Homo sapiens: one gene and its partners. The protein of the gene in region 3 purifies or fractionates together with the protein of the main gene of each other region. This does not show direct contact. Each region holds a gene or a part of one and is shown on either strand. Other genes may lie near its edges. The genes, in order: NCS1, GNB4 and KCND2.

Region 1 (3,656 bases), on a different chromosome or scaffold from region 3:
TAGGAATTTGGCACAGTTAAGCTGGGTGCCTCTGGCTCAAGGACTCTCAGGAGTATGCAGTTCAGCTGTCAATAGGGTTTGCCCAGGTCTATCCTGGATTTAGCAGTGCAAGTTCCCTGTTCTAGGAAACTTCTCAGTCCCGGGAAAATTGGGATACTTGTCAGCCATTGGCCAGGGCTGTGGTCTCATCTGAAGGTTTGGCTGGTGATGACCTGCTTCCAAGCTCACTCATGTGGTTTGGCAGCCTTGTTCCCTTGCCATGTAGACACCTGCACAGGGCTGCCTCACAATATGGCTGCCGGCTTCCCTCAGAGCTTTCCAAGAGAGAAGGAGAGAAAGAGAGCCAGGATGAAAGCCAGTGTCTTTTTATAGCATAATCTTGGAAGTGATATCCATCACTTTTTCTTTTTCTTTCTTTTTTTTTTCTGCGACTGGGTCTCACTCTGTTACCCAGCCACCAGGTCATGGCTCACTGCAGCCTCAACCTCCCAGACTCAGACGAGCCTCCCACCTCAGCCCTCAGCTTTCCAAGTAGCTGGGACTACAGACATTTGCCACCATATCTGGCTAATTTAAAAAAAAAAGTGTTTTTTTTGTTTGTTTGTTTTGTTTTGTTTTTTTTCTGTAGTGTAGAGATAGAGTCTCACTATGTTGCCCAGGCTGGTCTGGAACTCTTGACCTCAAGTGATCCTCCTACCTCGGCCTCCCAAAGTGCTGAGATTACAGGTGTGAGCCACTGCACCCAGCCATAGATTGGTTTTTGAATGCTAAGTCACCTTGCATTCTTAGAATAAACTCCACTTTGCTGTGATGTGTTATTTTTTTATGTATCATAAAATTTGATTTGTTGGCATTTTGTTTAGGAGGTCTACACTGTTTTTTTCTTTCTTTCTTTCTTTTTTTTTTTTTGAGACAGGGTCTCACTCCATCACCTAGGCTGGAGTGCAGTGACATGATTTCAGCTCACTGCAGCCTCTGCCTCCTGGGTTCAAACAATTCTCCTGCCTCAGCTTCCCGAGTAGCTGGGACTATAGGCACCTGCCACCATGGCGCCTGGCTAATTTTTCCATTTTTAGTAAAGATGGGGTTTCACCATCTTGGCTAGGCTGGTCTCGAACTCCTGACCTCAGGTGATCCACCCACCTCAGCCTCCCAAAGTGCTGGAACTGCAGGCGTGAGCCACCATGCCTGGCCAGGCCTACACTGTTTTGAAGCGTCTGTTATTATTATTATTATTTTTCACAAGAAATCCTTTTTCATTGAAGAGACATTGAAAATATGTTTAATGAGAAAACCTCAATTAAAAAGTTTATTTTAAAAAAAACCCCTTATGTATGACTCAGATATAATCACAGTGAACATTTTAGTGTCCAGAGTGATTTTAAAAGAATTGAACACTTACAAAACTTAACACTCAGTAAACTGAGTCACACAGAAATTATATAATTAAAACCAATTTATAAAGGAACTATCACTGTTATTAATATTTCTTTTTTTTTTTTTTTCCAAGATGGAGTCTCCCAGGCTGGAGTGCAGTGGCGTGATCTTAGCTCACTGCAACCTCTGCCTCCTGGGTTCAGACAATTCTCATGCCTCAGCCTCCCAAGTAGCTGGGATTACAGGTGCTTGCCACCACGCCCGGCTAATTTTTGTACTTTTAGTAGAGATGGGGTTTCAGCATGTTGGACAGGCTGGTCTCGAACTCCTGACCTTGTGATCCACCCACCTCAGCCTCTCAAAGTGCTGGGATTACAGGTGTGGGCCATCGCGCCTGGCCAATATTTCCATCATAGAAATGTTTGACGTGTACCTTGACATGTCCCATGGTGAATGCTGATCCGTTGTCTAATTTTTCACAGTCCTCTTTTGCAAATCACCATGTCATATTATTTCCATGACAAGCTTGTCAAAGTGACAAGAGCCCTCGCATGATATGATCCCCCTTTCTATTAGCTCTGCTGGGAAATGGCCTTCTTTCTTCTATAGGGCTGTTCCTTGTGCCTACGCGGTAGTGATTATATCCAATTTGTGTTCTATCATTTTAATGATTTATTTGCCTCCTCAGGTTCCTGATAGCTCATAATTCCTAGATCACTTGCAGTGATGTAAGTCATTGACTTATTCAGAAACTGAGATGAGGCTTATTTTCCACATCATTAAATGTTGAGCCATCATTTTTCATAGCTGCATAATGCTCCATCACATGGCTGGGCCATAATTTAACCAGTTCCACAGTGTTGGACACTCAGGTTGTTGGGAATTTGGGGAAGGGATTAAAAAGTTATCTATTATGGGCCAGGCGCACTGGCTCATGCCAGTAACCCCAGCACTTTGGGAGGCTGAGGCAAGTGGATCACTTGAGGTTAGGAGTTCAAGACCAGCCTGGGCAACATGGTGAAACCCCGTCTCTACAAAAAATACAAAAATCAGCCAGGTGTGGTGGCGGGCACCTGTAATCCCAGCTATTTGGGAGGCCGAGGCAGGAGAATTGCTTGAACCTGGGAGGCGGAGGTTGCAGTGAGCCAAAACCACTCCACTGCACTCCAGCCTGGGTGACAGAGTGAGACTCTGTCTGAAAAACAAAACAAAACAAATTATCTGTTATGGAAACATTCATACACAGTGGCAGAGAGAATAGTGTAATGCTGAGTGGGCGCCTGTGGTCACTCACACCTATCATCCCAGTGCTTTGGGAGGCCGAAGTGGGAGGACTGCTTTAGGCCAGAAGTTTGAGTCCAGCCTAGGCAACATAGAGAGACTCTGTCTCTACAAAAAATATGAAAATTAGCCAGGTGTGGTGGCACATGCCTGTAGTCCCAGCTACTCAGGAAGCTGAGGCAGGAGGATCCCTTGAGCCCAGGAGTTAAAGGCTACAGTGAACTAGGATTGTACCACTACACTCCTGCCTAGGTGACAGTGTAAGACTCTGTCTCTTTAAAAAAAAAAAAAAGTGTAATGTTTTGTACTCATCACTCAGCTTCCGAATCCCCAGTTCCCTGCCAATCTTGTACCATCTGTGCCCTCCCCCCCCACCCCCACTCTTGTGATTTTGAAGCAAATTCAAGACATCATCATACTTAATCCATTTCAAAATGTATTTCTAAAAGATAAAGATTCTTTGAAAAATTCATAAAGCAAAAGCAATCAATAATTCCTTAATATCCTCTGATCTCTAGTTGCTATTCTAGTTTCCTGTTATCTTACTCTTTTTTTTTTAACTTTGTTTACTGAAATCAGAATCAGAATAAAGTCTACCCATTGTAATAGGTTGATAGGTCTCTTAAATTTATTTAGACCATGTGCAGTGGCTGACGCCTGTAATCCCAGCACTTTGGGAGGTCGAGCTGTGTGGATCACTTGAGCCAAAGAGTTCAAGACCAGCCTGGGCAACATGGTGAAACCCTGTCTCTACCAAAAATACAAAAATTAGCTGGGTGTGGTGGCGGGTGCCTGTAGTCCCACCTACTTAGGGGTGCTGAGGCAGGAGGATTGCTTGAACCAGGGAGGGTGAGGCTGCAGTAAGCTGAGATTGCACCACCGCACTCCAGCCTGGGTGATAAAGTGAGATTTTATCTCAAAAAAAAAAAACTTTAATTTTGTTTATTTTTTATGTATTTATTTTTTTGAGGTGGAGTCTCACTCTTTTTGCCCAGGCT
Region 2 (3,656 bases), on a different chromosome or scaffold from region 3:
GGGTTTTTAATTTCACTTACCAAGTAGTTAATGACAAATTTTCATATTTTAAACAATCTCTGGGTAAAGGTGTTTAGTTGAAAAACTGAATATAAAAATAAGGAGAAAAAAAATGAGTCAAGCCATTGCTAAGTGTTGCCATTAAAAAAAAAAATTAAAAATCCTATATAAGAGCCTAGCAATTATTAGTTCTTTGAGCATAGAGGCCATTGTCCTCATCTTGTCCCTCCCAAAGTAGTATTCTCTCTTTCTTCAGCTATAGAGAAATTGATAGAATCTGTTCCATAGAGAAAGTAGATTTCATTAATTTCTCCACAGCTGAAAATTCATGACAAGCTAAAAGTAAGAGAGTAGAAACAGTAAGGCCTCTAAAAAGAGTACTTTATACTTTTTTTTCCTTTCTTTCTTTTTTTAAGACAGGGTCTCCTCTGTCACCCAGGCTGGAGTGCAGTGGCATGATCATAGTTCACTGCAACCTCTGCCTCTTGCGCTCAATCAATCTTCCTACCCTAGCCTTCCGAGTAGCTGGAACTACAGGCGTACACCACCACGCTTGGCTAATTTTTGTATTTTTTTGTAGAGATGGGGTTTCACCATGTTGCCCAGGCTGGTCTTAAACTCCTAGGCTCAAGCAATCTGCCTGCCTCAGCCTCCCAAAGTACTGGGATTACAGGCATGAGCCACTGCAACTGGCCAACACTTTTGCATAATAGGTAAGAATTAATGTTTAAGGATATTCATTAACCAATTGTATATATGACAACAAATTAAAAATATAAATAGGAGAGTAGTTATGATGCATTCATACAGTGAAATATTATGCAGCTATTAAGAAGACAGCGCTCTGACTTGCAGAGATACTAAGAATAATGATATCTTCTGAGCGAATTCTTTTTTAGAGGGTTCCTACTGCAAGTAAGACAAGCATCTCAGTGGGAGTTTGTCCTTACCCAGTAAGGTATACTACATTTCTTTTGTAATAACTACACAGTATATGAACAAACCCTGCTAAAGCCAAAAGTGGAGGAACAATTAAGCTGTTACTGCCATAAATATGAAATATAGACACTAAGAGAAACTTTATATTATTTCAGCAAGTCAGTAGCATCTGAGTGTAGAAACATTTCATGTGATTTCTATTTCAAAAAAGATAAAATAACACATCTTTCAGCAATTCTGGAAGAAAAGGCTCTCTATAAACATACTGGAAAATGGAACTGAGGAACACACACTGTGAACTTACCAAGCATTTTTCTGTCCATAACTATTGCTCCAAAGGAAATTCTCCGGTCCCTGTACCATCCACACGACCTTGGCACAAAGGTGGTAGTGAAGCATGAAGATTTAGGGCACTGACTCTGGTCCTCCACTGCTGGAGTTTGAACACTGGCTTCACCACTTGTGTACGTTAACCGACACATGGTAGTCAATAAAGGTTCACTGAAATTATTACTACAGTTGAGAGAAAGAGGTCTTTGAACTAAAGATGGAAAAATATTAAAATACTTCAAGGGACAGAAGTATATTTAAGCAGGAATTCTTTTAAGAGATCCAAACATTTTGGGTGTGCTCAATAGGTTATTTTTTCATCCTAAGCCAGATCTCTCTTCAAATCTGTGGCTCATTTTCTTTTCATTCTTTCTAATCGTATTGTAATTATTCAGGAGGCTTAACTAAAGTTAAAATTTTCAAATCTATTTTTTTTAAGTTAATTATCCAGTTTGTGATCTAGGTTCTTGTATTTTAGTTTCTTCTTGACCTATTCTACTCACTTGCCGCTTATTATCATCACTCCACCAGAGGGCATACAAAAGAAAGGTGATAACGTGAAAACACTCAAAGTTGGTAACTTGTTAGCTTTCAGAGAAGCTGTAGCAGCATCACCAAACACCTTACGTAGCACTAACGCTGTAAGATTCTCTGGAAACCGTCTTCTCCATTTGAAACGGCATTAGCTAAGATACAACAAATATTAATTCATGCATTCATTCCTTCATTCAACAAATATCTGAGTCCCGACCATGTGCCAAACATATTCTAGGCTCTAGAGATTCGGTAGTAAACAAAACAAAACTTCCTATTGCCACAGTGCTTTGTTCTGTATCTGTCTAGGAGATAAATAATACAGCACATCAATAACATAATTTTAAGTACAGATAAGTCGTATGCAAGAAAAAAACTGCAAGAACTTCAAGAGGTTAGAGGGTGACGAGGAAGGCTATTTTCAAATAAATTAAGTAAGGACTGAATGAAATGAGAGGATGAGCTATGTCTTCATTGGGAGAAAGCATTACAGGCAGAACAGCAAGCAAAGGCCCAGGCAGAAACTAACCTGACATGCTGGACCTACAGCAGTGACGATGGCGAGGCTGGAAGAGAGTGAGCAGGGCAGAGAGCAGCAGATGAGACTAGAAGGGTGTGCCAGAGCCCAGTCACCGTCTCTTGATCATGGTATTAAAAAAAAAAAAAAAAAAAATCCTGATTTTTTTTCAGATGGGGTCTCACTCTATTGCCCAGGCACAAACATGGCTCACTGCAACTTTGACCTCCTGGACTCAAGCAATCCTCCCGCCTCAGACTCCCATGTAGCTGAGACCACAGATATGCACCACCACGCCTGGCTAAAACGTTTTTATTTTATCTAACAATAATGGGTTCTGACGACTGAGATATAACCTGCTTTGATTTACCTCTTTTAAAGTTCATGCTGGCTGGTGGGAGACAGAGAGTGGAAGCTGACAAACCAGTTGGGGGGCTCCTGCAGTCATCCAGGCCAGGGAAGAATACAGTTTGACACCAGGGTGGTGGTGGTGGCAGTGCAGGTGATAGGAATGGTCAAATTAACTTTTTAAAAAAGATGGTCCAATCTGCAGTGATTTTGAAGGTAGAGCCCATAATACTTGCTGTTGAAGGAATAGATTTAGAATGAGTGAAATGGGGAATTAGAATTTTTAGCCTCAGCAACTGGTGGATGGTGGTACCATTGACTGAGATGGAGAAGAATGAGAAACTGTAGCCAATGAGGCAGGATGAAAATCAGAAAGAGCGGTGTCCCAGAAGCCAAGGGGAAACGACATTTTGATAGGGAAGGAGTTATCTGTTGCCTGTGTCAAATGTGGCTGAAGATCCAGTTTGGCAAGACTGACATCCCTGGTGACCTGGAGAAGAATTGTTTCATGGAGTAGGAGGGATAATGTGTCTCTGAAGCGGGTTCAGAAGAAGATGGCAGATAAGGAGTAGAGACAGCCTACATGGAGTCCCTTCAAAGATTTTCTTTTTGAAGCAAAGCTGCATTGTTATTGTTTGAAGTTTTATTTTTAACTTTTCATTTCTCCCAGTGCTGGGATTACAGGTGTGAGCCACCGCGCCTGGCCTGTTTCATGTTTTCATTTCTCTTCTTCCACGTTGGAAACCCTAGTTCCCAAAATATCAATGAATTTACTCATTTGCTCAATCCTATAATGCACACAAAATAGTTTCAGAATTGCTACACCTCTACCATACAAATAATAGCCTACTACACAGAGTTCAAGATTATTTTTTCAGTTCTTTAATCTTTAATCCTGTGCTCAAAACTTACTTGGTTTTTTTTTTTTTCTTCTGGGAGTTTATATTATTCACATAAATACACGGTTTGTTGTTGCTGTTTGTATTGT
Region 3 (3,656 bases):
TCAAAATAGTCACCTTGAGAGGCAGGGCCCTTGTTGCTTAGAAATAATCTTGGAAATCTCTTTTGTAGTTTCCTTTGGACTTATGGCACTGTATTTCCAGTGTTCTTCATGGTCATTATATCTTTGTCCTTTAAGGATAGTTTCATTTTTTAAAAAATATCCAAAACCATTCATAATCATGACTAAAGTAGATGCACAACCTAGGTGATGTGTTATAACTACAAAATATCATGAGAGACTTTGATATAGTTATTCACTGGCTTTGTAGGTAATTCCAGAACGGGATCTTAAGCACGCATATGAACAATGTCAGCCTCTTAAGTAAAGTATACAATCTCATAAAGTAAGTCTTTGGAAAGTTCTAGTTAATCACTGTGGCCACACAGCATATTTGTCCAGAGAACTAATTTATGCCCACTGTCAAAGATCTTCTTCCTTTAGCAAAGAATCACTTTTTCAAGCTCTGTAGTTACTTGCTTTATGGAACCCTTCATTTTTGGACAAATGCCTAGCCTTTAATTATTACAGAGAAGAGTTAGAAATAGTCCAGTCAACATGGATATAGAGAACTGATCATCTAACGAATAGGGAGGAGTAGAAAAAGGCACCCTCTGGACAGTTGTAGTCTTATGTAGGGAATACATACCCTTGGCAAGCAGAGGTAAAGGGATTTCAGCCACAACTGACCCCACCACCAGGGACCTTCAAACATCACACTCATGACGCTGCCCATACAGTACAGTCCCTCTACTGAGTACAAACACACATTGTCTAAAATAACAGGATCCTACCAAAAGTTTAACTTTCAACCACCCATCTATCTCCATTCTAGACATTTCTCCTTTAGTATAAGAGCCAACTGTATGAAAACTATAGAAAGCACAAATCTAAATTTCCGATAAACCAATTTCCCAAACACTTGTATTTCTTCAGAGTTTGTCATCTGCAACAAAGAAATCAATAAAGAAAACCTTAGAATATTTTAGAAGCCTTTTGGTCTACTAAATATTAAATACTAAAATACATTTAGAAATCAAAAGTAAATAATGTGACATTCTAAAAGTACACTAATTGAAAAGTATATTTTGTGAATGCTTTTTGGTATCTTTAAATATTTGCTATATTTTTGGTTTCTGCCATAATGCAATGAATTTTACAGAGTTTTACTACTGAAAAAATTGGATTAATAAAGTAAAATATAATAACCAAGTATAATATGTCCAGTATGTAGACTGTGACCAATAAACTGAACATAATCTTCTAAGAAAGAACAGTGGATATGAACTAAATAAGTTACCAGGGGATATTTTCTATTTTCCTTCCCAAGAGATTAGGGGGAAAAAAAAGCAGAACAAACGCCCATTAGGCTAAGACAGTTTATTTATCTGGGACTGGGCTATGTGCCAAATATTAAAGTTATGCAAAAATGACCAGCTAATTCAGTCAAGCAAGCATTCAATTCAGTAAAAACGTCAGTCCAACTGACTAATAAAAGTAATATTACAAAATGGTTTGTTAGACCATATTTTTGGTGTTTAATTCAATTGCCACACTAAGACCAAGCAAAAGCATGAAATAGACACAATATTAATTTTAGAAAATTCCTATCATCACTATCAGAAATACTTTCCTTCTTCTAGTTTCTTCCATTTGCAAGTACTCTTCCTACTTTTGCTGTCCACTCCTGCCATATACAGGGAATACATGGTTTACCCCATTTCTATCAATCATTGATAAAGTCTTAACTAAATACTGACATGCTGGTGGGTATAGGCCTAAACTGTGACACCTCTCCTCTACTCCCACCATTGGTAATTATATTTTAATAGATTTATTGATTCTCGTAGTTATACTATAAGTATTTACTGAGTAGAATGTATTAGCCAAAATAAAGCTAGATTAATGCAATGACAAGTGGCAGGTTGACATTTTGAAGCAGCTCTTTTAATATATGGATCACATCACCTAATCATCTGCATACTCACAGGCTAACCTGTGAGTAATTATCATATAATAATCATAGTAGTAATTATAGTTATAATTTAATAATACTAATTGCAACAACAAAAACCCTCACTAGTTTCTAGAATGTCCCAGGTGTTTTATATCTGTTTTTTTTGTAATATTCACAATCAACTTGCAAAGGAAGTATACTATTTCCATTTTACAGATAACTTGCTCATGCTCACAAACCTAGTGATTAAAGTCCAAGGCAAAAAAATTCTAGTATTATTTGAACTATGAATATTTTAGGATATTCCTATAGATAATTCTAAATGCAGTGAGAAGTTTAGAATCAATGAGCCAATGTATAGTGTAATATTTTTAAATTTCACATTGACTTAGAAAGACACTACCCATATGTAGTCTGCCATTTATCACACCCTGCTAGGGTGGTTTTCAAACTTTAGATTCATTAGAATCATCTGGAAAGCTTACACACACACACACACACACACACACACACACACACACACAAACAAAAAAAAAAAAAACAAAACAAAAAACAGATTGTTGAGCCCTACTCCCAAATCATCAGACTCTGTAGTTTTGGGTTAGAACCTGAAATTTTGCTAATAAATTCCCAGGTGATGCTGATATTGCTGTTTGGAAGACCACATTTTGAGAACCACTGCCTAGTACATTCAGCAATGTCAAAATCAAAGATTTTTATTTAAGTAGAATAATGAAAAAGCAAGAAATAACTACTTGCTAGAACCTGAGAATGATCTCTTAGGTTATCTACTGTTAAAAACAAAATTACCCAGCTCCTAATTCCACCTAAGAATTTGGTCTTGGATGCTCTCCTATATCCTCTTTCAGTTCTCACCGCTTCCACCATGGAATCCTCTTGTAGACCTCTCATTGCTTAGCCTCTTCCACTAACCCAAATCCCAGCCCTTTTTCTGCTTAGCCCTGCCATCTCCAGGATTAACCAAGTTCTGGACCTAGGAATGTTGCACTGTCTGCCACTGACTTCTTTCTTCTCTTTTTATTGTAGTTTGGTACTAACTTGTCTCATTTCTAGCACAGCTATTTTTCTTAGCAAGTGAAAAGATTCCAATAAATGCCTTAAACTTCTAAAAGGTGATAAAGTTTACTATGTTACCTCAAACTGAGGCATTTTACTAACCCTTAAATGAAAGAAACAACTGTAAGCAAAATTTCCAGAATGCATGTTACAGGGAGTGTGGAGGCAGGCATTTGAGGAATAAGGAATTACCAAAGAGAAACACCTTCATTACCTCACTTTTAAGGCTACCTAGGATACCTTTATTTTTCAAAAGATTTTGTGATTTGGTAACAAGATGGCCCAATAACTTCCTTTAATCTACCTCATACCTCATCTAGAAATGACTGACCATTTAAAGAAATCAATGTCTCAGTGGTGTTTGGCTTATAGATCCTTCTCAGATTGACTTCCACCCTCTGTTCCACAACATAAACTATAAAGTTTATGTCACTTGGCGTAATTAAAAAACAATCTACTTGATAAAACCCATTGTGTTCCACTGCATTCTAGCCTGTGAGTACTTCACAATACAAGATTTCTATGTCAAATTAGTTTGAGGAAATTTGCAGATTATATATCCCTGTTCTTCTCACAGTGATCATCCACAATGTCATATGGTGTGAGGAACCCGGGAGCAAAGGAA

Evidence for each region.
Region 1: the proteins of KCND2 (region 3) and NCS1 purify together in Homo sapiens (affinity purification with western blotting, with the first as the bait; one study listed by BioGRID). This does not show direct contact.
Region 2: the proteins of KCND2 (region 3) and GNB4 purify together in Homo sapiens (affinity purification with mass spectrometry; one large-scale study listed by BioGRID and IntAct). This does not show direct contact.

The regions. Positions count from the first base shown.
Region 1 is NC_000009.12:130,227,776-130,231,431, forward strand, and holds part of NCS1 (neuronal calcium sensor 1), read left to right. Parts: intron 1-3,656. UniProt on the Homo sapiens protein: Neuronal calcium sensor, regulator of G protein-coupled receptor phosphorylation in a calcium dependent manner. Directly regulates GRK1 (RHOK), but not GRK2 to GRK5. Can substitute for calmodulin. Stimulates PI4KB kinase activity.
Region 2 is NC_000003.12:179,444,891-179,448,546, forward strand, and holds part of GNB4 (guanine nucleotide-binding protein subunit beta-4), read right to left. Parts: intron 1-3,656. UniProt on the Homo sapiens protein: Guanine nucleotide-binding proteins (G proteins) are involved as a modulator or transducer in various transmembrane signaling systems.
Region 3 is NC_000007.14:120,734,599-120,738,254, forward strand, and holds part of KCND2 (A-type voltage-gated potassium channel KCND2), read left to right. Parts: intron 1-3,656. UniProt on the Homo sapiens protein: Voltage-gated potassium channel that mediates transmembrane potassium transport in excitable membranes, primarily in the brain. Mediates the major part of the dendritic A-type current I(SA) in brain neurons.